3 separate regions of the Homo sapiens genome follow, and regions 2 and 3 are each linked to region 1. The links come from fine-mapping of genetic effects on gene expression. A gene starts in region 1. Each other region holds a variant in brackets. All regions are shown on one strand. Distances are between the middles of the regions.

The links. PIP is the estimated chance that this variant, and not a neighbour inherited with it, causes the effect. A credible set is the group of variants that fine-mapping cannot tell apart.
Region 2: its variant is the best candidate, but not a certain one, in a credible set for the expression of PGBD5 in lung (TOPMed, PIP 0.79).
Region 3: its variant is the best candidate, but not a certain one, in a credible set for the expression of PGBD5 in prefrontal cortex (CommonMind, PIP 0.70).

Annotation. Positions count from the first base shown.
Region 1 is chr1:230,424,053-230,434,238 of GRCh38, forward strand. It overlaps PGBD5 (piggyBac transposable element derived 5), which reads right to left and starts at 2,280. Exons shown (of 7, transcript NM_001258311.2): 1 at 1,546-2,280. The coding sequence starts at 1,876. RefSeq lists a silencer at 2,227-2,546 and enhancers at 2,355-2,902, 2,903-3,449.
Region 2 is chr1:230,339,821-230,344,820 of GRCh38, forward strand. The region is part of intron 3 of PGBD5 (piggyBac transposable element derived 5); the gene reads right to left. Among named protein-coding and RNA genes, the nearest start is that of PGBD5, 84 kb to the right of the region's middle. The variant TGAGA/T (reference allele first, on the strand shown) is at 2,737.
Region 3 is chr1:230,317,501-230,328,140 of GRCh38, forward strand. PGBD5 (piggyBac transposable element derived 5) reads right to left here. Exons shown (of 7, transcript NM_001258311.2): 6 at 7,810-7,915; 7 at 1-6,120. The coding sequence ends at 5,925. Among named protein-coding and RNA genes, the nearest start is that of PGBD5, 100 kb to the right of the region's middle. RefSeq lists enhancers at 1-182, 10,310-10,429. The variant G/A (reference allele first, on the strand shown) is at 7,833.

The DNA of each region.
Region 1 (10,186 bases):
CTAGCACAAGTTCTCTATTTCGCCCTGAGACACGCAGAGACTTGCTGTGCAGTCCCAGGTGGACCTGGATCTCAAATGTTCCAGGATCGAAATTACATCACAGATGCTCACGGCATAAAGTCTGCCAAACCAGGTCTGTGGACTGGTACAATTCTTAAAGAGCCAATAGGAAAACAGCTGTCTAGGGCCAGGAGACCTTAATGACATCCTGGAAAATATAGGACAGTATAAAAGGACTATAGAGAGTCAATGATTTTGAAAATTCCCAAGCTCTTAACTACAGCCCAAATGCACATGCTTTAAAATGTACCCACCCCCAAAGCAGTGCACAGCTAACTGTGACTTTGCAAGCCCAGCTTTAGCTCCGCGCATCCACACCGCAGCCTGCCAGAGGTCTGCAGACCACTCCCTACTCAGAGTCCAGCTAACCCTACCGGCCTCCCAGCAGGCTGCAGCATGATGCCCAGATCCAAGTCCAGGCACCAGCTGGAGGTCCCTTGGGCCTGCCTTCCCATGTGCCGTGTTCCTGACCGGTTGAACAATAATCAGAGAAGGCCACAGGAAAAGCCGCATCATGCCCACCGCGGCCACTCCCTGGCCCTCATCAACACCGGTTGCGCGCACTTCTACGGAAGAACACAGCATGCAGGAGCACGGGCCTGCTACAGAAGGCCGTGGAACAAGAAATACCAGCATGAGAGGGCGGCTGGTCTGCAGCTTTCAAAGAAGGCAGAGGCTGCGGAGCTTCTGCAGAGGAAGTGGTGATATTTCAACAGCCAACTCCCACAAAAACAGACAGTGAAGAGGAGTGGGGCAGCCGCAGCTGCCAGCACCCTAGCCACCTTCTCCAGGTATTCGGGGCTTGTCTGTGGCCACAGTGGTAAGCAGGACACACCTGAAAGTACCTTCTGGCGGAAAAGCAAGCACCTTAACGCTGCCCAATCGGTCCCTTCCTTCACTCCTCCCCATTCTTAACAAGAGATCTGGAATGGCGCGGACAGGGAAAGTTTCTCAGATTAAGGAGAAAACTAAGCCAAGTCAAGACGCCGCGGGTGGCCTCTCTCTCAACTCTCACTGGGCCAACTCCTACCTGCCTCGCCCGCGTCACCTGCTGTAAGGCTTGCTCTTGGGCTGTCAGTGAAAAAACGACTCCCCCTGCCTCCACCAGCCACGCCGGGCTTTCAGAAAAGCCCCCTCAACTAGGAAAGCCTAACTTCAATCCACCCCTAAAAGTCCGACCCACAGGTGTGACAGACTTCCCATGCAGGGGCTGGGGTGCTCCCAGGAAGTGAAGGAAAAGGTCCCCGACGACATTGTCACTGGAAAAGTGCTGGCCACGGCCTCCGCCTTACCCTCTCCACCCACGGGTTCGGAGCCCCCAGGAGCAGTCAGACCGATCACCGCTCCTGCAGCCTCATTTGTTTCCGGAGAGACACCCACAAGCCAGCCCACGGAGAGTCTGGACTCGCCCGCCCCAGCACCCACGCCTCCCCCGCGCCCGGTTCCAGCGCCGCCCCCGACATCCACCCGCGGGCAGCCCCTTACCGCCGGTATCCTCGAAGCGCGGGGGCGGGCGGTCCCGCAGCGCTGCGCTCCAGCCCGCGCCGGCCTCGTCCTCCTCCGGCTCCTGTGCGTCCGGGGCGCGGGGCGGTGGCGGGGCGGCCCCTGGGGGTCCCGGGGGCTCGCGCTCGTCGTCCGAGGAGGCGGCCGAGGAGGAGCGCGAGGCGGCCGAGGTGCTGTAGAAGGGGTTCCCGCCGCTGTCCGGGCCGGACTCGCCGAACACGTCGTCCGAGATGTGCAGGCTCTCGTAGCGCGCGCGGGCAGCCTCGAGCAGCGCCGGCGCCCTCCTCCGCGCGCCCCCGCCGCCCTCGGCCATGGCCCCGGCCGCCGCCCGCGCGCCCGCCCCCACAGTGCCTCCCAGCCGCACACGCCGGGCCCTGGGCCCGCGCCGCGGCCCGCCGCCCCCCACCAGCGCAGCCCGCAGCACAGCGCCCGCCGCCCCGTGCCCGGCCGGCCCGCCGTCTTGGCCGCCTCGGGCCCAGCGCCCGGGGAAGCGCCCTCGGAGCTCGGGCGCCGCAGGCTGCGGGCCGCGGCGGGAGGCGAGCCGCGCGCGGGGCTGGCAGGGGCGACCCAGAGCGGGCGGGACGCAGAGGCTGCGGCCGAGACCAGGCGCCGCCGCCGCCACCGCCGCCACCACCGCCACCACCGCCGCCGCTGCGTCTCCTCGGCGCCCGCCGCCTCCCTGCCCGCCCTCTCCACGGCCTCCGGCGCTCGGCTGCCGACCTTCCCGGGCGCGAGCCGCCAGAGGCGGGCCCTGCCGCCCCTCACCTCCCGCCCGCCGGCCAATGGGGAGCCCGGCCCGGACAGCCGCGGGGGAGCTGGGCGGGCCCGGCGCGGGGAACGCCCCCACCCTCCTCCGCGGGGCGGGGCGGGGCGCGCGGCCGGGGCTGGCGGTTAGGGGGAGGGCCGCCGGCGGCAGTGCCGGTCTCCTCCTACAGGGACGCGCAGCCCGGGACCGCCACGCGCAGCGCGGGAGGGGGAGGGCGGGACCGGGGAACAGGAGGGGAGGGGGACCCGGGTGCTTCCAGCGGTCCGGGCCCGCGGACGGAGTGCGGGCCGATCCCGCTCACTGTCCCCTTCCGCAGTCCGCGTGCAGCTCCAGGGAGCTGTCCGCCCCGGTGGTTCTGAACCAGGCGCCGCCGAAACGCTCCAGGTAGGCGGCGGGCCCGAGGTCACCACACCCGCGGCGGCGGCTGCTGCCGAGGTTTCCTGGGGGTCACTGCCAGCTGCGCCGCATGCTCCCATAAATACAGGGGCTGTCCAGCTTCTGGGAATCTCGCTCTAATTAGGAGCCCGCCTCGCCGGTCCACTGTTGGTCGCTGGTCAGATGCTAACTCCGTCTCGCTTCAGTATCCCTGTAATTTAAGGGTGCCAGCACTGGAGTTAAGTAGCTAGTCATTCCTCATCATCGTTGACGTGTGGCATCTTTTGAACTCAAAATATCCATTACTTCCAAATACTAATTACTCTCACACCTCTATTTTAATATCTCCTTCACACACACACTTGAAACACTCATGTACTGAAATATTGCATGATCACCCAGGCTTCAGTGCTCTCATAAACAATAGCACAGAAAGGTTGCATCCGCCCCTCTTCCTTGGGCAGGAATGTGTGGTGGTCATCCTGTTGATGGCGATACGCGTAACGGAGACTGCCTTGTCTTCTTGCTCCCCTCCTCCTCCTTCGAATAATGCAATAAGTCACACTAATGGTAAATGGGCCATAAAGTCACTTTCACTCTGAAATAAAATAAATCCTCAGAGATGTGAAGGGCTTACAAATCCTACTGAGCATTAACTAAATTGTAGTTACATGAAACAGAAAGGCATGTTGCGATTTCTACGAATGCATAAAGGATGAAGGACCATTTTGCCGCCAAGTGGGGTCACTTCTAGTGTCGAGCAGGAACCTTCACTCATGCCCTCCCCTCCCCAGCCCCTGTGGTTCCTCCTTCCACATCAGGGGCTCTGCACAGGCATAGGTTCATGATCATCACTAACAGACAATATATAAAAAGGAAAAGATTCATGGAACTTTCCTTGCTATGTGGATTGGCTGAAAAATGAGGAAGTGCTTGCAAAGCATTTTTACTCTCTTGGAAGAATTATGCCACGGAAAATATCTGGTTTCCAACATACCTATATACTGTGCTAACCAGCTGAAAGTTGTTGAAGAGAGTACAGGTAATCTGACTTATCAAAAAGGGTGATAGTAAAGCATAGGTTGAAGATGCAAGAAGAAGAGTAAGACTCCATAGCTCAAGTTCAAATTCTGCAATTAGGAATTGTGTGAGGCTCCTGCAAGATTTCATGTTATCTATTTTAAATAGTTGAATGGAAAAAATAATTGAATGGGATTCAGAGAGTTAAAATCTGTAGGAAAGAGTTCCTTCTTTTCTTCTCCAGCTAGCCAATGAAAAAGTCAACAGCTAAGGTACGTGTTTTAAAAACGATGAATTGCTTTGCTACCCATAAGGAACCAAGGAACAAAACAACAGCAGTGGCAAGGATGGACAGAGTCTTCCGGTGTCCCTAATTTGCATTTGTATGGTGCTAATTCCCAGGAAACCTTGGGGCCTTGTGCTTCCTAGGCTCACAAATGCTTGTAGCTCACACCACATGCAACACTGAGGAGAGGATTATATGGACACAAAAGAAACACTGAGAAGTCAAATTGTTACTTCAAAGCTTGTCCAATAAAAATTAGATGAATATTTCAACTTAGAGTGAAGTATTTTATAGCACTTACATTTGTTTAAGCCAGTTTCCAAACAAGAAAAGTAAAAACATTCCAACCTTTGAAAACAGATGACTGCTTCTCACTGTGGTAAGAGAAGGAGTGAGGGGACAAAACAATTGCAAAACAAAAGCTTTCTCCTCTGGCTGGCATCCTCCTATTTGATAATGACGATTATGATTCTACATCATTAACTTTTATTAGTAACATCATTTCTGAGAGTAATTATAGAATATATATCACACTGAGATCTTTTAACTTTGAGTCATTTGAAAACATCTTCCAAATAATTTAATTATAAAATATAATTAAATAATTTTAGATTAATATTGAGCTTTTGGTTTTATGGTTTTCCCAAACAGCTCAAGGTAGTAAAAAGCAATTCATTTGTGTAGTAGATTCCTTAGGTTTTGTTAAACCAATGGTTCATGCTTTTATGTAACTAGGGCTAAGCACCATATTTCATTAAGTCTAAACCTCCTTTCATGGTACAGTGAACCATTGTTTTATGTATCACTAAAAAAGAAAAAAGTGCTGCCATAGGAAACTATGATACAATGGTTCCTTTTCTGTTCTAATTATAATTTAAACTTATTGAAAAAGCTATTTGATCATAATTTTTGGACAGATTTTTATTACGTATCACTCTATTGCATGCATACAGATAAAATATAAATTAATTGATTAAAGTTTTCCGAATTTCACATTCAGAATCTCACTATCCTTGTTTACTTTCTAACTCAGAGCTGTCAATGCCCAGGTTTTCTCCAGAATATGCTCCTCCAAGTCACTCAGAGCATTTGGTATGCTGCATTTCTTACACAAGTGCTCCTAACTCATCCAAGCTACTGGCCTCCCACTCTATGTGTCCCCCAAGCAGGAGCATGCTAGCTGTGGTCAGCCAGCACTGAGGAGGCAGATGACAGAGCTGAGAGAGAAGTGGTAGCAGATGAAATCAAAGAGGAAGTTGGGTGGGTGTTAAATCTTGCAAGACTTCAGATTTTATTTGGAGTGATATGGGGAGGCACTGGAGAGCATAGAGCAGAGAAATAAGATCTTGATGCTGATGTTTTGTTTGTTTTGTTTTGTTTTGTTTTGTTTTACCTAATCCAAGGTTTTCATACAATAACTAGATTCAATTTCCTTCTTCCAGTGGTTCTCAGCAGGCCTGTGGCCTGGCACACCAAGGGGTATATGAGGTCAGGCATGTCCTAGGAATAGCAATGAAGTTGGCATAGACTCAGACTCTGTTAACTGCACAGGGATTTTCACTTGCCCAGCACCAATTATAAGACATTCCTGATGTTAGTGATGTGAAATATGAAAAAAAGGAAGTGGGCATCTTAGAAGCCATCGAATACAGTATATATATTTTTCCTCGGCAGTTTTACAAGTCTTGATTTTGCAAATAGTCAAGCTGTGGCAGGACACAGAAATGAACATGAATGCTAATGTGGCAGAGAGTGCCCTGGCCAGCTCCAGACTGCACAGGCCAGATGAGGCTTGAGAAGTCTGCGTGTTGCTGGTCACTCTGGATGGAGACGGCAGGGATGGTGTCAGTGAAGCTGCTGCTTCTCCCCATGTTGCCTTCATCACCCAAAAGGAGGGGGCTACAGCCAAGGAGAAGCTCCTGGGGCTGCGAGAGGGTAGGGGGAGAAAGAGTGCAGCTGCTGGACAGTGGCCCGCATGTTGGGGAGGAGGTCGGAGGAGAATATGCGTGGCACAGGGTGACATTTGGGGTCATATCTAATGCAGGGACCTAAGGGTCCAACCTCTCTCACAGTGCTTTTATGTGGTAAATTTATCTAGGAGCCAACACAGAGAGGCAGAAAGAAGGAAATAGGACAATCCTCTGGAAAACTCTCGAGAAAATTCCCTTGTGTTCAGATTGAGATGATCTGACTTTTTCATTGATTGATTGATTCATTCATTCACTCACTAATTCAACAAATATGTATTGAGTCCTATTATGTGCCAGGCTCTCTTCTAGGCACTGGAAATAAATCAGAGAAAAAGAACGAAGACCCTGTTTTTATAGCACTTACATTGAAATGGTGGCGGGGGGTGGGGAGAGAAGAGACAAAAAATAAACAACCCAGTAAATATGTATATACCTGTTGTTGATAAGAGATAAAAAGTAGAGGGACAGAGACTGATGGTGGTTGTGATTGTGGTGGAGTGTGTGTGTGTGTGTGTGCACAAGCTTGTATAAATTGGTTGGGAGAAGTTGCTCTGATAAGGTGACATTTGGGCAGAACCTTCAATGGATTAAAGAAGCAAGCCATGTGCATTCAAGGATGAGAAACAAGTGCAAAGCACCCAAAGCAGGAGCACACTAGCTGTGGTCAGTCAGCAATGAGGAGGCAGATGTGGTTGAGACAGAGATGAGAGGAAGTGGTAGCAGATGAAATCGAAGAGTTGGGTGTTAAATCTTGCAATACTTTGTAGTTTATTTTGGGTAAAATTGGGAGCCACTGGAGAGCATAGAGCAGACAAATAAGATCTGGCTTGCATTTTAAGGGCCTCTCTTTAGCTGCTTAGAGGGAAATAGATTGGAGCAGAGGAAAAGTGGAATCAGGAAGACCAGTTCAGATACTATTGCGATAGTCCAGGCCATAAAAGAGGGTATTTGGGACCAGACTGGGAGTGATGGAAGTGATGAGAATTGGTCAGATCAGAATATGTCTTGAAGGTAGAACCCACAACTTTTATGAAAGAATTAAATGTGGACAGTGAGAGAAAGAGATGAGTTGAGAAGGACTCCATGGTTTTGGCTTTGCTCTTGTTGTTTGCATGGGCTACTGCAAGAGCAGCAGGATTGAAAGGGAGGAACAATAGCTTGGTTTTCAGCTGTAGAGTTTAACATATCTGAGTGGGTCTGGAAAGCAGGTAGTTGAAAACAGGAATCTGGAGTTCATCCAGGTCTAGGCTGGAGGTAAGATTGTGAGTGCCATCAGCAGATAGATAGTAGATACATCTTGTTTGCTTTGTTGTTGTTGTTGTTGTTGTTTTGAGACAGTCTCATTCTGTCACCCAGGCTGGAGTGCAGTGGCTTGATCTGGGCTCACTGCAACCTCTGCCTCCCAGGCTCAAGCAACTTTCCTGCCTCAGCCTCCCAAGTAGCTGGGATTACAGGCACCTGCCACCACGCCGGGCTAATTTTTGTATTTTTAGTAAGACGGGGTTTCACCATGTTGGCCAGGCTGATCTCAAACTCCTGACCTCAAATGATCTGCCCATCTCGGCCTCCCAAAGTGCTGGGATTACAAGCCTGAGCCACTGCACCTGGCAGTAGATACATCTTGGATGAAACCACCGTGGATGGAGCATAAATATGGAGGAAATGGGTGTGAGGGGGATTCCCAGAGCACATGATTTCTAAACATGAGGCAGATGAATCACTCAAGGAGACTGAGAAGGCTGGAGAATTGAGACAAAGTAAAGTCCTGGTGGCTAAGAAAGTATTTCAAGGAGGAATACTTTCAAATAACTGTCAAATGCTGCTAAGAGATATAAGAAGAGGACTGAGAATTAACTTCTGGGTTTGTCAGTGAGCAGACAAAACTATGATTGGAGTGGATCTGAGAATGGGAGAAGAAATGGGGGTATTGAGTCAATATAAAGTTTGAGGAGTTTTGCTGAAAAGGGAGGAAGAAAGGGGAGGTGCCAAACAGGACTAAGGAGTTGAGGGAGGGATTTAAAAAAAAATCAGATGTTTGAATGATTGTGGGAATGTTTCAATAGAAAGGATATGGGAGAGATGCTGGAGAGAAAGGGAACAGTTGCCAAAGCAAAATCCTTGATTGCTTGAATGGTGGCGAGTTGGAATGCACAAGTAGAAGGTTTGTCTTATTGCAGAAGGCAGTGAAGTAAAGACTTCGTGCAGGCACATTCCTAGATTTAGTGGAAGTCTGCTGTGGTGTTCTTTCCTTACTGATTTGATGTTCTCAGTGAAGTGGGAAGTCAGGTCATGAGCTCTGCCTGATGAAGGGAGGGCGAGGAGTTTAGCTTCCGTTCTTGGCTGTACATTAGGATCACCTGGGGAGTTTCAAAAACACATATCCAGGGCCCTGATCCACACCAAGTAAATTATTATTATTACTATTATTTTTGAGACAGCGTTTCACTCTGTCACCCAGGCTGGAGTGCAAAGGCACGATCTCGGTTCACTGCAAACTCCATCTCCCGGGTTCAAGCGATTCTCCTGCCTCAGCCTCCCAAGTAGCTGGGATTGCAGAAGCCTACCACCACACCTGGCTAATTTTTGTATTTTTAGTAGAGACAGGGTTTTACCATGTTGGCCAGGCTGGTCTCAAACTCCTGACCTCAGGTGATCTACCCGCCTCAGACTCCCAGAGTGCTGGGATTATAGGCATGAGCCACTGCACCAGAGCACACCAAGTAAATTAGATTCTCTGGAGGTGGGACCTGGGCACTGGTGTGTTATAAGGTTTCTGGGTGACTCAACAGTGCAGCCAGAACTGAGGATCCCTGGGCTAGGAGTTTGAGGAAAGAATGTGTGGAATAGTCAAAATAGCTATCTAGGAGAGTTCAAGGATCAATGGACTAGAGAGAAACAATCTGGATTTGTGGTTGAGAATTTAACCTGAAATGGGCCACCATCGTTATGTTTCTCTCTAACTGCATTCAGTTGTCAGGCTCAGAAACAGGGTTGACAATGGATTGGGTTTTGCCAAAGTGGGGTTTTGACACATATGTATGGCGGAGTGGGAGAGTTTGAGAGATTGATCCTAATGATGGGCATGGAATCTGTGCCAGCAAAGGAAGCAAGTGAGGACTTGGGGGAAAGAATTAAAGTACATTAAATGGAGGTGGGTACAGTGGCTCATGCCTATAGTCCTAGCACTTTGGGAGGCCGAGATGGGCAGATTGCTTGAGCCAAGGAATTCAAGACCAGCCTGGGCAACATGGTGAAACCTCATCTCTACCAAAAAACAAACAAACAAACAAAAATTAGCCAGGCGTGGTGATGCATGCCTGTAGTCCCATCTACTCAGGGGTCTGAGGTGGGAGGATGGCTCGAACCCAAGAAACAGAGATTGCAGTGAGCCATGATTTCACGACTACACTCCAGCCTTCTAGCATGGGTGACAGACCCAGTCCCTGTCTCAAAAGAAAAAAAAAAAAAAAGGAAGTAGTTGGGAGATAGATAAATGGCTTCTTATCATGAGATTTTTTTTTCTATTTTAAGTTGTTTAGATAATTAACATTTTCACAAAGTAATTTAAGGCAGCTAGACACCTGCGAAGCAGCACAAATAACTCTGATTAATGTTTCAACCTACCTTTTTTTCCCAGGGTTTGAAATTAATTTTTTTTCAACAAGCAAACATCATGAGACATTTAGAGTGAAGAAAAAAAACATTTTGGAAAATATTATAGATCTTCCTATTCTTAGATAATGGGATAATTTAGTGAGCCACTGCTGATTCCAAAGCCCCTTTCCCAGTTTTGTAAGTTTGTCTTGTGTCTCTTCCCTGTCCCCTTGGCTACATCTTCCCACTTTAAACACACCCAACCCCCACTCTACTTGTTCCCCAACGAAATGAAGGGCTCTGATACAAGTACCACCCCTGAAGTGCATTTGCCTGTAAAGGAGAAATTGCAGGTTGGTGCTTAACACAAATGAACAAAGTGCTTAGCAGTAGGATCCCAGGTATTCTAAGAAGCGGAGAGGGATACTCCTAGCTGGGAGCCTTTCATAGCACTCCTGAATTCACAACCTCACGGATGGCACAAGTGCAACTTAAGGTCAACACTGGGTTGTTTTTGTTTGTTTGTTTGTTTGGTTGGTTGGTTGTTTTTTGTTTTGTTTTTTGTTTTTGAGACAGAGTCTAGCTCTGTTGCCCAGGCTGGAGTGCAGTGGC
Region 2 (5,000 bases), 87 kb before region 1:
TGGTGGTTACGGGGCTGGGGGATGGAAGTGGGAGTGGGGAGGTATTGGTCAAAGAATTCAAAATCTGTTAGATAGGAGGAATAAGTTCAAGAGATCTATGGTACCACATGGTGACTAAAGTTAATAACAATATATTCTTGGAAATTGCCAAGACGGTCGATTTTAAGTGTTCTCACCACAAAAAATGATAACTATGTGATGTAATGCATATGTCAGTTGGCTCGATTTGGCCATTTCAGTGTCTACATATTTCAAAATATGTTGTACACAATAAAAATATACTATTTTTATTTGTCAATTAAAAAATAAATTTTGTAAAAACCTTAAAAATATTCATGCTATTTTACTCATGAGTTTCACTTTTAGGAATTCAATCCAAGGTAACAATCAGAAATGTGTTAAAAGGATTTATATATAAAATACCATGTCCATTTCAGGGTTTTTTATAATGGTAAAAAAATTAACAATGACCTAACTACCTTACATGAAGAGCAGACTGGTTAAAATTATATATGTAGGTATAATGGAATGTGATATACTTTAAAAAATCATCATGTAGAAAAAGTGTTTAATAACATAGAAAATGTTCACAATATCCTTGTAAGTAGCCAGATTATAAAACAGTGCAAGTGTGTGTATATGTGTGTGTTTATAAATATATGTTGACTATACACTCAAGCGGCTATTTCTGTATAAAAAGTATTTATCAGAATGACAGATATGCTGGGCTTTTAATGTTTTTGATGCTAAATATGTAATACAACTTAATCAGAAAACAACCCACTAAAAATAATTATAAAATAACTTCCTTATCAGGATTACCCAAGCATAAGACTATTTGGAATTTGCAGTATCTTTGGGTCTGAGTGAACGGTTATTCATCATCTCCATGCCTGGAGATGACGATGACTCTGAGAATCAGGGTAGCCTCTTGCTGTCTTGGAATTAACACATTTTCCCAAAAGCCAGTGATGTGCAGCTGAGATTTTACAATCCCTGGGTAGAATACGGAAGGCAGTCCTGCCGCAGGACTGCCTTGAAATTACTCAGCCTCGTGTCCACACATGCACCTCTGAAAACTGCCATTTTTCCAGACTCCAGCCAGCCTCTTCTGAAGAAGTGGACGCTCAACTGGGATGTCACAGGAGAAGGGGACAGGCACTGAGCTAAAGGCACTGAGCCAGAGGAGACAGGCACTGAGCCGAAGGTCAAAGATTTCTTATTAGGAAATCTGGAAGAAGGATGCAGCCAAGAAGTGGCACCAATGAGAGTCCAAAGAGAGTCCCAAATGTGTGGCACTCATTGCTATAAAATAATGAGTTTCTAAAAGTGAATATAAAATAGGACCTTCATTTAAATAAATACAAAAAAGAGGTAACCTTGAAAGTCTCAGTTGAGGGCATGATTTAGGAAAAACTGTTGGCAAGGCAGTCAAAATCTGGCCAGGAAAAGGCCCAGTCTAAGAGGTACTGCTTGGTCTGATGGCCAGGCAGGTCCGGTACCTGACTGGTCCTGGTTTGCTTTGACAGAATAACGTCAGTGGTCAAAGGTAGTAACTTGTTTCCCTTAGCTGGATGAGCAACCTCCAGTGAAGTCTTATCCTATCCATGCTCTGTTGCTACAAATGCTTAAGCTATACAAGCTATGCTAATGATCTCGTCCAGGTTTAAAAGACAATCCTAAGGAATCCTGCCAGTAATCTGAGAAACAGCAGAATCACTGGGAACCCACACATGTATTCAGACACTGGGTTGGGTACTTTCTACAAGAGCTCCCCAGACACGACACGGAAGGAAATACCATTCACTTAGATGTGTGACTACTTCCTGGTCTGCTTTTCAAAAAGTCAGATATCTCCCTAGACATATCTAGAGAAAGCACTATCATACTAATATGGTTCCACCAACGTGTGTAGACATAGGTGACTTCCTATCACTGGGCAAAATGCAGCCAGTTATAGACACTTCTGAGCTACAAGACTGCTTGACAAGTATCTCTAGAGCAGGAAAATGTACCATTTGGTGGTTGCCAAGCTTTTCACTTTTCCTAAAAAGTTTTTTTGCTCCTATGATTTTTAAATATATATATATTTAAGAAAGTAGGCATGCAAGTTTATTACTATATGGCATTATACTTTGCCCCAGGGTATTATTCCTAATGTTGCATATTTTATACTGACATTACAACAAAAAGGATCTTAGGAATTATGGATTATAGCAGTTAATACCCTGGGGGACACATACAGCACATGGGATTTATCTTAGCTCTCCTGAAATGCCCCCACGACCTCCAGAGACAGGATCTAGTTCATCTTTTCCCTCAACTTCTCAAAAGAACAGTAAGGCTAGTGGCAGTAGCTGCTGACTCACCAGCTGATAGTTCCACTAAGCTGTTGCTGGGATCCGGGCACCCTCCTGCCTCTCTAACACAAAGAACTGGAGAAAGCCCAGTTCAGCTATACTGGTCTTGACCAATGAATGACCCTACTTCTTTTTCAGCACAGAAGAGAATCAATTTTCTCAGTGAAGAGCATATTTGGGGGAAGGGTATCACATCGTAGGGACTGGTGATCCTTTGCTTGAGTCTTATCTCTAGTGTGCAAGGAGCTATGAAGGTGAAAGTAATTCAGCTGTGGAAACAGCACAGCAGTGCACGATCTGCACTCACTGAAGACGCAGAATGAGATCACGGGGTGTGTGCGGCTGTCACCTGGGACATCTGCATGGGACAGCCACT[TGAGA/T]GAGTTGTGAATTGTAAATGACAGTCACTTGTCATGAGAGGAACTGAGGCAGGGAGGGTGAGTGCCAGGATACATGGGCACGGGCTCTGTCATTCACTGGCTTGTGGGTTTGGGGGCAAGTTACTTAATTGCTCTGAGCCTTGCTTTCCTTATCTGTAAGGATAACGTTGCCATATGCACCTTGCAAGGCCCTTGTCTTTAAGTGAAAATTGTGCACATAGAAGTGATTTTTTAATATAGCAAAGCTCTGTAACTGTGCTCCCAATGTGGTTGCCTTCAGCCACATATGGCTGTTTTCATTTACATTTAAATTAACTAAAATGAAAAATTCAGGCCCGCAGCCACACTGGTCACAATGCAAATAGTCAACAGTCACATGAGGCTAGGAACTGCCATCATGGAGAGCAGATATGAAACATTTCCATCATTGCAGAGAGTCCTGCTGGACAATGCTGCTTGTGTCATCTTTGTGTATTAGCTGGGGCTTCTAGCAAAGTCTCTAAGCCATCACCATACTGATGACTTTCATCTCTCATTGCCCAGTTTCTCTCTCAGGCCTCTCACCATGACCATGCCCAGGAAGAGCTCATGTGCTGAGTCTGTTCTTGGTCCTTCTCCTCTCTGGCTGCACCTTCAGCACCGCTGACCCCTGTGGGAGCCTTGCCTTCATCTCATCCCAAAGCTCAAAGCCTGAGGTGGTTCTTTCAAAATGACAGGTTGGAGGAGGGACATGTATCAGCATGTGGGCTCTCTGTACACACTCATGTCTGTGCAGTTGAAGAGTCGAAGTTCTTTAGGGAGAGGGTTGAATCTGATCCACACAGTAGCTGGTGCACTTACCTGGGCACTTAATAAATACTTTATTGTCATCTTTGAAGTCCTATACGGTAAAGAGGTGTGGGTGGATTAACTTCATTCAAAAGTGGAGAAAGAAGGTAGTTCTCAGCTACTTGCTCAAGGACACAAAGAGGTCCACGGTTATGTCTTCTGCCTCAGCCAATCCCATCCTCAACTTACCGTGTCCAACCTGGACAGGATCTCATGCCAGCATCCTCCTCACTGCACGATTAAACAGCTGGACACATGTCCTGCCCTGCCCAGCTTCTGAATCCACAAGCAAAATTCACTCCAGCCAATTAATTCCATAGTGGTCCTCACTTTTAGAGCCAATTCAATTAGTTATAGGTCAAGAGCAAAATATTTCACTTAGTATGTAAAAAGACTGAGTCAAATAAGGAAAAAAACACTTTAGTGCACCTTCTTTAAATTCTTTCAACATAAATAGTATGTCTCAAAATAAGGGAAATTAGTGACGTGGATGCTAGACCACTGTCCTACCAACAATCAAGCTGGATAAAAGATACTTGGCTTTTTGTCTAAATCGGGAAAAGTTCTCTCCTTGGAGGAGTCAACATAGCCTAGTGGTTAAGAAGGTGGGATCCAGGCTGGGCACAGTGGCTCACACCTGTAATCCCAGCACTTTGAGAGGCCGAGGCGGGCAGACCACGAGGTCAGGAGATGCAGACCATCCTGGCTAACACAGTGAAACCCCTTCTCTACTAAAAATACAAAAATTTAGCCGGGCGTGGTGGCGGGCACCTGTAGTCCCAGCTACTCGGGAGGCTGAGGCAGGAGAATGGTGTGAACCCAGGAGGTGGAGCTTGCAGTGAGCCGAGATCACGCCACTACACTCCAGCCTGGGCAACAGAGGGAGACTCCGTCTCCAAAAAAAAAAAAGAAGGTGAGATCTAGAGTCAGAATGGCTGGGTTTAATCCCAGGTCTACTGCTTTGTAGATCTAATTTTAGGCAAGGCAGCAAATCTCTCTGTGCCTCAGTTTCCTTACCAAGAAACAGTGGCGGTGACATTACTTGCCTCTTAAGGCCCTTGTGGAGAAAAAATGAATCCTGCATGTGAAGTGCTTAAGCACAGAGCCTGGCCCACAACACACACTCTGTAAGTGTTCGTCATTCTTTCCTGAACGCCAGAAGCAGCTGCCAGAATCCACAGATGAGACTGAGGGAGGGAAGGGGCTTCCAGGTCAGCTAGCTTAGCAGCACAGGGCACACGGACCTCATTCAGAGTGTCCCTCACAGATGTCATGAGGGCTCTGCCTGGACAGATTCCATGATGTGTGCAGGGGGTAGGAAGCACGGGTTCTTTTGCTTGGGGGTTACCATCTTGAATTCTGGCTTCTAATGCCCATCTACTTCCGGAGTATGTCAATGCCCAGCGTGAACCTGAAGCCCTGCCTCCACTGA
Region 3 (10,640 bases), 110 kb before region 1:
GAGGCTTGGGTGAAGACGGCAGAAGAATGAATCAAAGACTAGCGAGACGCACCAAGAACAGAGGTGCGCTGCCGGGGGCTGACCCTTGGGGAGGGGAGGGCCGAGGCTGATTTATCTGGCGGGCTCAGCCTCACCCTTCACTCCTCACTGAATTTCCTTGGCCATAAAGTGCCCCTTCCACCTGAGGGAGCCAGGAGGCTTGACACGTGAGGGAAGCCGCACACACTCCTCCATCGTCTTCCTAGGTCTTTCACACAAGCCGATGTCCTCCCCGCCCTTTCTGTTTTCATCTCCAAATACATGCACACAAGGTCAAGCTTCCAGGCAACTAAGGAAAAAACCTGAAGAATAGTATCTGCTTGTAGAGTAGCTAGTGACATGGAGCGCACAATCAAGTCTCCCGCAGGAGTCTCCTCATTACGACCGTGTATACATGGGTATACACGGAAGGGTGAAGGTGCCCCACCCTCCCCGGAACACAGTTCACACAGAGCTGCCACCAGCGCCAGCACCACCGCCCTACACTCAAGAGAGGCTGCCCGGCCCCCACCAGACAGGGGTCAGAGCTAGGAGAATGTGCCTGGGCTGCTGGAGAACTGGGGTGCGCACTGGGCACCCCAGGGAGGGAGGGACACAGAGATGGCTAAATGGCAGCGAGCTGCGTGGCCAGAGGGCATGCTTACTCTCTGGTGCTATTTTATGGCAACAGCTCTAAGTGCCACTTTGGTACCTGATACTCTTTATTTCTTATTGGGAGAGAATAACATACCTGCAAAGAAGGCTGAGAAATATTCTCGAAGATGAGACACACAGAAGCCACGGAGAAAAAGGGATTAAGTGATGGAGTCAAAAGTGAGAAGCCTCAGTCATGTTCCTGATAAGAACGGAAGGTATTTGGGCAGACAGCCAAGCCCGCATTGACTGACACAGGGCCGTAACAGGAGAGATTTCTTCACAGACAGAACTGTTTTCCAAAGCAAGCTGCAGAGGCCACCGGTGGGGAGGGGGCACTGGGGACACTTTCCCTGGCCACTACCTTGTGAACTTCTGGGGACTTCTTTCGTTTGGAACTCCCACTACACAAGGCTAAGGCTTTCCACAGCCAAAGCTTGGCAAGCCCTCGCTTAAGGAAGAGGGACCAGAACCACAAAGCTGGCATGTGGGTGAAGACGGCGCCTCTGGCCTAGATCCCAGGGCACTCTGATGAGACCCCACAGCTGGCTCCACTCCCCCACCCCATCCCACTCTCCCCATACTGTGAGCTGGGGCCATCTGGGTGAGGAAATCGCTATGGTTCTTTCTGGCTCAGGGTCTGGTGTGGCCAAGGGCTTGCCCTGTCCAAATGCCCCCCAGAATAGTGGCTCCCTACCAGGCTAACTTCAGCTTCAGTAGTTGTTAAGCTCCAAAACACCCATCTCCATCTAGGACAAGAAAAGGACCCAGGGGGAGGGTGATGTCCCGGATCTCATAATGATTGTTTTCAGTATTCGGATCAGCAGAGAGGATTGGATATGGAAAGGAGAAAATCCCCCACAAAGTTGTCAGGTAAGTCAGGGATAAAATCCCCCGTCCTCGTGATGAATCAGGACAGCCAGTGCCCACAGCAGTTAGGACGCGGCCTCCTGCGTCAGGCAAACCCGGGTCTGCTTACCTGGGCGAACCATTGCACCACTCCATCTGGGCGTGGTGACAGTCCATGCCTAACCCACAGGGATCCCTGTGAGGAGTAAGGCTCTGGGGCAGAAGGGCCACCCCAAGCCGCCTGGAAGTGTGCCTGCCTGTTAGCCACCGCTGTCATACCTTTCAAACACAGCACCTGCGAGGATGCAGGAGACAGATCTGGGAGGTACCACACCCAAGGTCACCTTTCTCCCCCATCAGTGTCGTTGACTTGTTCTCGCCCCAATCCCAGGCAAGTGGGGAAATGTTTTTTTTTTGCCATGAATGCAGACTGGAGGAGAATGTGTGAGGCTTGCGTAGTTGCAAGGCCCCATGGCCCTCCCGGGTTTGCCCTGCTTCCTCTCAGCCTGATGCTTGGTGACCCCCCCTCACTGTTGGGGGGGCTGAGCCTGGGTCCCTGGGGAGGATGGTGACACACGGGCCACACAGGAAGGATTCAGAACCTTCCAGGCTCTGTCCTGGGGACCTGCAATCTTCTTGCTTCTTGCACGCAGCAGAGTTAACTCAATTTTGGTGACCAAGCCTCATCTGATTTAGTCAGTACTGGATGTGTTTGCTCAGAATGACCCAGCCACCAAGACTTTTCCATATGACTTGCCTGACTTTTGAAAGATGTCCCTAGTATAATGTCCCATGGACCACGGGAAGACGTTGTTCAAACTCGAGGCTTTTTTTTTTTTTTTTTTTTTGTGGCGGGGTGGGGGTTGGAGTCTCGCTCTGTCACCCAGGCTGGAGTGCAGTGGTGCGATCTTGGCTCACTGCAGCCTCTGCTTCCCGGATTCAAGATATTCTCCTGCTTAGCCTCCCGAGTAGCTGGGACTACAGGTGTCCACCACCACACCCAGCTAATTTTTGTATTTTTAGTAGAGATGGGGTTTCACCATATTGGCCAGGCTGGTCTCAATCTCCTGGCCTTGTGATCCGCCTGCCTCGGCCTCCCAAAGTGCTGGGATTACAGGTGTGAGCCACCGCACCTGGCCAAAATCGAGGCTCTTTAGGGAGCAGAGTGTGGGGAAAGACAATGAAAGTCGAATATGGAACCTGATCAAGTAGGCACCAAACAGAAACAGACATTCACTCAATGAAGTTAAATTTGCCTAAGAAGGACCTCACGGGACGCTCAACACAACTGCAGTAATGGGAAGGTCTCATAAACTCCGTGAAGCTCAGTGCAGGTTCAATTCCCTGTGAGTTGCAGGGAAATGCAGATTCTCTTTGGAGAAGCTTGGAAGTTTTTGTGGGTGTTTTGTTTTGCATAAGGCTGGGAAGCTCATTGCTCCATCTTTTTTTTCCAGAGCCTGCAGCAGAGACATCCCTCAGGGGATCGGCTTGGCTTAGTGGCTGGATCTGAGTGGAATGGGCTCTCACTTGCCATGTGTGCAGTGGTGCTTGCCAGCCCCATATACTCAGCCAGGGCCATGCTGGCTCCCTCTGTCATAAGACCACTTACGATGCTCTTTCCTCATCCCCAGGGATGGCCAGCTACTCCAAAGCCAATCAAGAATCAACCTGAGGGCTGTTGAACCCAGGGAGATACTGGAACCAGATGCACTTCAACTAGAGTCACTCCAAAAAGCCACTTTGAATCACATCTCTAAGGCAAGGTCCAGGTCCCTGGAGGTTCTGTCAGTCCGTCCTACATGCTATTCTGTCCTTCTGGATGGAGAAGAGAAACTCTTCTCAGTCAACAGCATTCCTCCAGAGACCTGAAGTGGCCACTGAAGCCTCCCCTAGACCCGGCTCAACAGCTGCCTTTTCCCATCATGTATCAGACAACAGGTGGCTGCCATTTTAGAAACAGAGTGTTACAATGTTACAATTATTCTCTCATGACTGGGGAATGCAGCCACCCACTGCCTGTCAGAACAGCACCTCTTCCTGCTCATCTGGAATGACACACGACACAAACTAGAAGAAAAGAGGGAAAACCACCAGGCCGGAAGGCAGGCCTGCTAGTGTCTTCAATGAAACAGGCACCTCAAATACAACTGCACTCATACAACTGCAACATCAAGAGGTATTTCTATTAGCCAAACTCAAAAACATTTCTTTTTTAAACTGCTCAGTGGTTTGAGACACCAAGAACAGTTAATATCATACACACCAGATTATATAACAAAAAAAATCAAGTATTTAAAAGAGTAGCCTGTATTTTTGTTCCTTCACCTTGTTTTTTTTCTTGATACAGGGTCTGGCTCTGTCACCCAGGCTGGAGTGCAGTGGCTCAAGAGATCCTCCCACCTCAGCCTCCCAAGTAGCTGGGACTGCAGGCATGTGCCACCACACCTAATTCTTGTATTTTTTGTAGAAATGGGCTTTCGCCATGTTGCCAATGCTGGTCTCAAACTCCTGGACTCAAGCGATCCGCCCGCTTCAGCCTCCAAAAGTGCTGGGATTACAGGCATGAGCCACCGCACCCCGCCTGTTCCCTGACCTTTTAAACGAATTCACGTATTAACGGAGAATCAACATCTAAATAGACTTTTATTTTTATTTTACTTGTTTGGACAGAAAAGAAAATTCATCAGCTTTCATTAGAGTCTCCTTAAGTGTTGGAAACACATTAAACTCAGAAATAGTGGACCTTGTAGAAAAGCATCACAAATTAAAAATATATTTCTCCATGTGGTAAAAGTGCTTTCAATCCCATTAAAGGGCACAGCAAGGGTGTTTGGAAACACGATCTGAAATTTGGCCTGCAATCCGTGGCATCGATTCCAACCACAGGGCGGGGGAGTCACCATGATCTAGAGCACAGGAGCCACGTGGGGCCCGGAGCATGCGGACAGCAACACTCGCAATAACTGAGTGAGGACGAGGCCCATAGCCTGAGTAGAATAGATTCTGTATTTGTAAAAAATGAGGTGGTTACATCAACTGGGTTGAAGGGGGACTGGGTAATCCCAGAAATTCCTTGTTTCTGGTCTGTGGGGATGGTCAGATCTGCCCACCACTCTGGCACCGAGGCTTCCCTGGAGACGCATAAACCTGGGTTGGGAAAGTGCCCAGATCTGCCTGGGGGACACACGAGCCTCGCTGCCAGTGCCGGGCACGCAGCCTCTCCAGTCCTGCCGTCAGCAACCGCCTCCGGCCCTCATGTCAAATCACACCTGACCAGAGTTGTCACCACAGTCCTGTTTTGGGGTTTTTCCAAGGCCAGCCCTGTTGTTCTGAGGGGCCACTCTGAGCAGGCAAACACTGCCAGGGTCACTCACTACACACAGAGGAAAGACAATGAGCAAATGGCCATCGTAGAGAATTCGGTTGTGTGTTTCAGCAATGCTACTTATTTTTCAAGACAAGTAATTCTGCCAATGATGACATCTGCGACAAAGCTTAGGGCCCGCGGGCTCCCCATGCGCCTCGTGGAGAGCAACCACGTCTGTTCGGAAGCCAGCGGCCCTTCCCGGCCCTGCCACAGGCCAGAACACAGAACTGTGATCATGCAAAGAGCCGTGACTGAGGCCGGGGTCAGCGTCGGGGGTGGAGAGGAGGGGACATCTGCCTTTTACATTAGATCTGAAGCAACAGTAAGAAAATAACCTGAAGATATATTTAAAAATAAAAAATAGCATCATCCTTCACTCCAAGTTTTTGGCATTTCCCTCTCTCCCCTGCCCACCAGCTAAGCAGAGGGAATGAGCAGGAATGCCTCGTTTTTCAGAATGGGCACCCACTCCCCATTTCACCACTGTACACCCAGGATGTGTGTCTTCTTCTAAGAGACCGGTTCAAAGGTGCTGGCATGAGGCAAATGCTGGAAAACCCTCCGGCCTCCCCTGACACCTGAGCCATTGTAACCATGCAGGGCGTCTTTGCTTCCTTCAAGTCTTGAACTTGAACCACGTCCCAGATTGCTGTAGATCTTTAGGAAGCAGGCATCTCTCTTAGAGCGTGCTCCAGCTCATTCTACCACGGGGGCCTTCCTTCACAGTCACCAGTCCACGCTGCCTCGCAAGCTCCACGGATGTCATGAGAGAATCTGCCCTTGAGAACGTGGGTGTAAGTGCTCATCACACCGGCGGCACTGTTTCTCGAGGGAGGACATGCTCTTCTTGGAATGCAAATGAGGACAGCAACCGTCCTCTGACCAGGTCCATCCTGTCCCTCCAGAGGCCCTGTGCATCCCTCCCAGGCAGCAAGCCACACACCAGGCCGTGTCCGGGTCTCTGATGGGCAAGTTGGAACGGCAGGCTCTCCTCCTCCTCTTGCCCCTCCCTTGACCGAGTCCTGCGCCCCCAGCATCAGTGGGTCGGAGAGGCATCCTCCAAGCCCAGCAGCTCTCTGACGAGTCTCTCTCCAAACTGCGCCCGGCTGTACCTCTTCACGTGGTAGGCGTCTGACATTTTGTACAGGATGTAGGCATTGTTGATGGCGATGCTGATGGCGAACCAGAACACCTGCTGCCAGGTCTTGTTTGGTTTATGAGAAATGAAATACCTGAGGACAGAGGGAATAAGAACGGCTGACCCGATGGTTCATGGCACCCGGAGATGCATCCCAAAGGCCCCCCCTCACCACAGCCCGTGAGACGCTGCAGGTTCGCCCCCGACAGAAGCAGGAGGGCTATGGGGGCAGGAGTCAGGCTTGGGATGTTAGGTGAGTTCCAGCTGGGGGTTTTGTCACAGTGAACTTCATTTAAGACCAAGGAAATGAAAACAACAAGGTTGCTGGAGTAGACCCTGAAAGCCAGGTGCCAGGTGTGCTGGGGTGGCGCACAGCCCCGGAGTGGACAGGCGCCTGCCAGCCTCTCCAGCTTCCCTGCTTGCTGAATGCTCCTTGCAAAGCTGTGCTCTGTACGTGCTGTGCAGCTGACACTCCCCCAAGGCCAAGCTCTTCCTCAGCTCCAGGCCCCTGCAGGGCATTCCCCTGCTCCCGAATGTACCTTTGCCATCCCCACCATCCCTGCAGATGAAGGCACACAGGTCACCCCTCCGGGAAGCCCACCCAGACCCTGAGAACACTGGCCTTCTTGGGAGCACTAGCCTCAGGCCTCACTCACTGCACTGTCTTCTCCATTTGTGAGTTTGCCTCTGCACCCTGTATAAAGTATGGGAGGATCGGTATCCTCAATATCTCACTATGTCTGAAATGCCCAGCACAGAGCAGGCACGACAGACATCTACCCCACAAATGCCAGCTGCTTTAGAACAACCTCATAGAACACAGCAAGGTGCCAGTACATAGTAGGTGCTCAGTGAACTGAATGCCAATGTCTTTGTAACAACCTCATGGAATTTAGTAAGGTGCTGAGCACATAGTGGGCGTTCAACAAAGACTTGTTCAATGAATCCCCAAGGAGTGGGACTACCTTTCACACACAGGCTGAGTTTTCCAGAGAGAACCAGGTCCTTGTTTTTCCCTCTTTATCATGAAAAAGGCCAGGAAGTACAGGTTACCCTCAAAGAAGGTTCAGTCAATATCTGATTTTGAGTTAGCCCAACCCTGTTCTAAGTGGTAAGGCTCAATCCCAGTAATTTAATAGTTTCAATGTTCAATAGTCGTCATTTTTTGAGTTCCCATCATGGTGGCTATAATGGCACGAGGTCAGGGGTGGCATCGTGGGTGTCTGGACGTCCGCACATTGTGGATCTTGTCTATGCTGTGTGTAAACTATGCATACTATGTGTATATTGAACATGAGACCACATCTGGTGATCTAAATAGGCATCCATATTTGAGAAAATTAAGGCACCCGTGCTAGAACACATGTGACTTGGGGTAGAAGTGCCCGAGCTGATGCCCAGTGTGTTAGGGGTGTGGGGAAGGAGGACAGCAATTCAGAATAGAGGACTGGGGCAAGCGATGCCAACGGCTGGAGTTTGAGCTCACTGCTGAGGGACAGTTCAGTTCAGTAAGCAAAGGAAAGGGTGCCTCTGGGCACAGGGAATGTGAACCCAGCATTGGGAGAGTGGAGGACACAGAGTACCTGGGCAGAGGACTTCTAGGTAAAGCCATGTGTGCACAGGCGAGGCCCAGAAGCCCAGGCTGAGGGCAGGATCTTACCTCCCAGGGTCTTCATCCTGCAGTTCTTACACTGGGGAAACTAGTGATCATCTGCCATTACATCTCTTCCGAGACGGCACAACTATGAGAGCCCTTCTGTCATGGAGGTGCCCAGCCACTTACTTGCTGTATTTGTCATCGTATCT[G/A]CAGATGTAGCTCAGGTGAGCGGCAAACGCCTCCACGGCCAAGGGGCATGGGATCTCCCCACTCTTCCTTTTGATGATGACTCCTGAAGGCGAGAGACAAGATAAGCCCCTTCCTCAGCACCTCCTCCTAATGCCACTTTATAAATGTGCCTATCTTCGTCCAGCTTAGCTGCTCCCAACTTAATAATGAGCAGAGGAGGAGGAGGGGAGGGAAGAGTTGAAGAAGAACAATCAGCACCAACCACCAGGTGCTTCAGAGGGATTGAGGAAAGCATCAGTCAGGTGAGTGCCATGGTATGCGCTGGCCCAGACACAGCACCCCAAGTCATGGGGTTTACAGGCCTCTAGGATCCTGGCAGGCCTGAAGGGGCTCTAAGCAGCATGGGGAAGGGTGCTGCATCCGACTGGGCCTTGAAAGAGTGAAAGCGGAGACAGGGCTCACTCCTCCCTCCCTCCCCCTTCTGCCAGGCTGGGTGAGGGATGCTAGGAAGAAGAGGTGGTGGCTGAGGTCAGACAGCACCATGGAGCCCTTTCCACCTGCCTTCATCAAAGCCAAGGGGTGTCGGCAACTCGTCACCCCACACAGGGTGACTGCAGAGTCACCCCGCACAGAGCACTAGACCTCACTCCTCCCATCTAGGCTGTGGTTTTGCATCCTTTAATAAATCCCCCGATAAGTGTGTGAGATGATGGATATGCTAATTACCCTGATCTGATCTCCATACATTATATGTAGCAGAACATCACTATGTGCCCCGTGAAAATGTGTAATTATTGTTTGTCAATTTAAAAAAGCAAAAGGAGGCTGCGCACGGTGGCTCACGCCTGTAACCCCAGCACTTTGGGAGGCCAAGGCGGGGGGATCACCTGAGGTCAGTAGTTTGAGATTAGCCTGGCCAACATGGCAAAACCCCATCTCTACTAAAAATACAAAAGTTAGCTGGGCACGGTGGCAGGCGCCTGTAATTCCAGCTACTCAGGAGCCTGAGGCAGGAGAATCACTTGAAACTGGGAGGCCGAGGTTGCGGTTTGCTGAGATCGCTGCCATTGTATTCCAGCCTGGGTGACAAGAGCGAAACTCCATCTCAAAATGAAATAAAAAATAAAAAAGCAAAAGGGTGGAATTATTATCATTATTTTTTTAGATATGAGGTCTTGCTCTGTCACTCAGGCTGAAGTGCAGTGTCATGATCATAGCTCACTGCAGCCTAAAATTCCTGGGCTCAAGGGATACTCCCACCTCAGCCACCCAAGGAGCTGGGATCACAGGTACATGCCACCATGCCCAGCTAATTAAAACAATTTTTTAAAACAGAGACTCACCATGTTGCCTAGGTCTCACCATGTTGCCTAGGCTGGTCTCAAACTCCTGGCCTTATGTGATCCTCTACCTGGGCCTCCCAAAACTCTGGGATTACATGTGCGAGCCTCCACGCGCAGCCAAAAGGAATTAGAGGCTCAGAAGAAGGAGGAGGTTGTCCTTTTCAACCCTCCCATCCCCCAGCTCCGTCCTTTCATGCCTCCTCGAACTTTGGGGGCCCTACACCCTCAAACACCTTTTCCTCTACTAAGTACAACTGGGAATGCATCCCAGGGGCACCGCAAAGGTCATGGCAAGATGAACAAATCCTACCAGCAGGGCCTGAGAAGCACACGGAGACCCATGAGCCCTCCTTGCCCCGCTGCCAAGCCACTGCTGGTCATTCTGGCTTCCCAGGCCTGCCCTATGCGCCACCCACCGCAGACAACACGGAAGATGAGACGGACGCCTTCTTCCTAACAGCCGCGGCCATTCGAGAGTGGCTGGAGTTGACCTACTGTTTCCTTGAACTGGCCTTCCCTCACAGCAGCAAGGGACTATGGGCACAGTGCCATTTTTCTGTATTTTTTTTTTTAAGGCATTGGCTCACAGGATTGTGAAATTTCAGCAATACTTAAATGGACAAGGTCAAAGTCAAACGGGCATGTCCTTTGCAGGTCCACAGGAGCTTCATCTGGGGCCAGCCCCCTCCCACCCCCACAACTCTCACTGAGGGACCGTGGCTGAGGAGACCAGGGTCGCGCAGATCTGCTTACATACACTGAGCCGGACTCTTTCCTTCTTTCCTCAGAAACAGCAGCATTTCGCATGGAAGAAACACTGGCCAGCTTGTGGGAAATTGAGCTGCCAAGGCCTGCCCTAGAGACGCAGGACCGGGGAAGGGGCCCTGGCAATGAGTTTCCTAAAGCTATCCAAGGGCCAGAAAACCATGGCGGCCCCCACACTGGAGCTTCCTCCTGGCCGGAAGACTATGGCCTCCTTCACTTGCTTATGGAGCCCCTCCTCCTGAGAGATGTTCTGCTGTCGGGAGCCTGCAGAGGGGGCGTTCTCCAGGGCTCAGCGCACCAGGCGCCAGGGAGGGCGTGCGGGCCTGCAGTGCCCAAGGACTGCCGTCTCTCTCCAACGCCCCTCCTGAGGATTCCTGTCCCCGGCCCCTTATCTCAGCTGCCTCTGCCTCCAAGACCGAGTAGGAGTAACCCCTTGTCACACTTGGGGCCACAGCATGTGGCCCGTGCAGGTCTCCCATCTCCAGCTATGTTTTGATTTGCCTGACCTCCAATGACAACCTTCTCTGGGTCACAGGAGGCTCTGGCCTCTGTAGGGTTCCACTTGGATGTGAGCAGGTGAGACCATCCCTATAAAGAAATGCAAATCCCCTTAGTTCTTTTCCCGGAACTCAGGATGCCCCGCTCTGAGTCATTAGTGTCTCCGGTGAGTCATGGCCGCTCTCCGAAGATCTCGGGGTTTCCCATAGACCCGTCCCCATA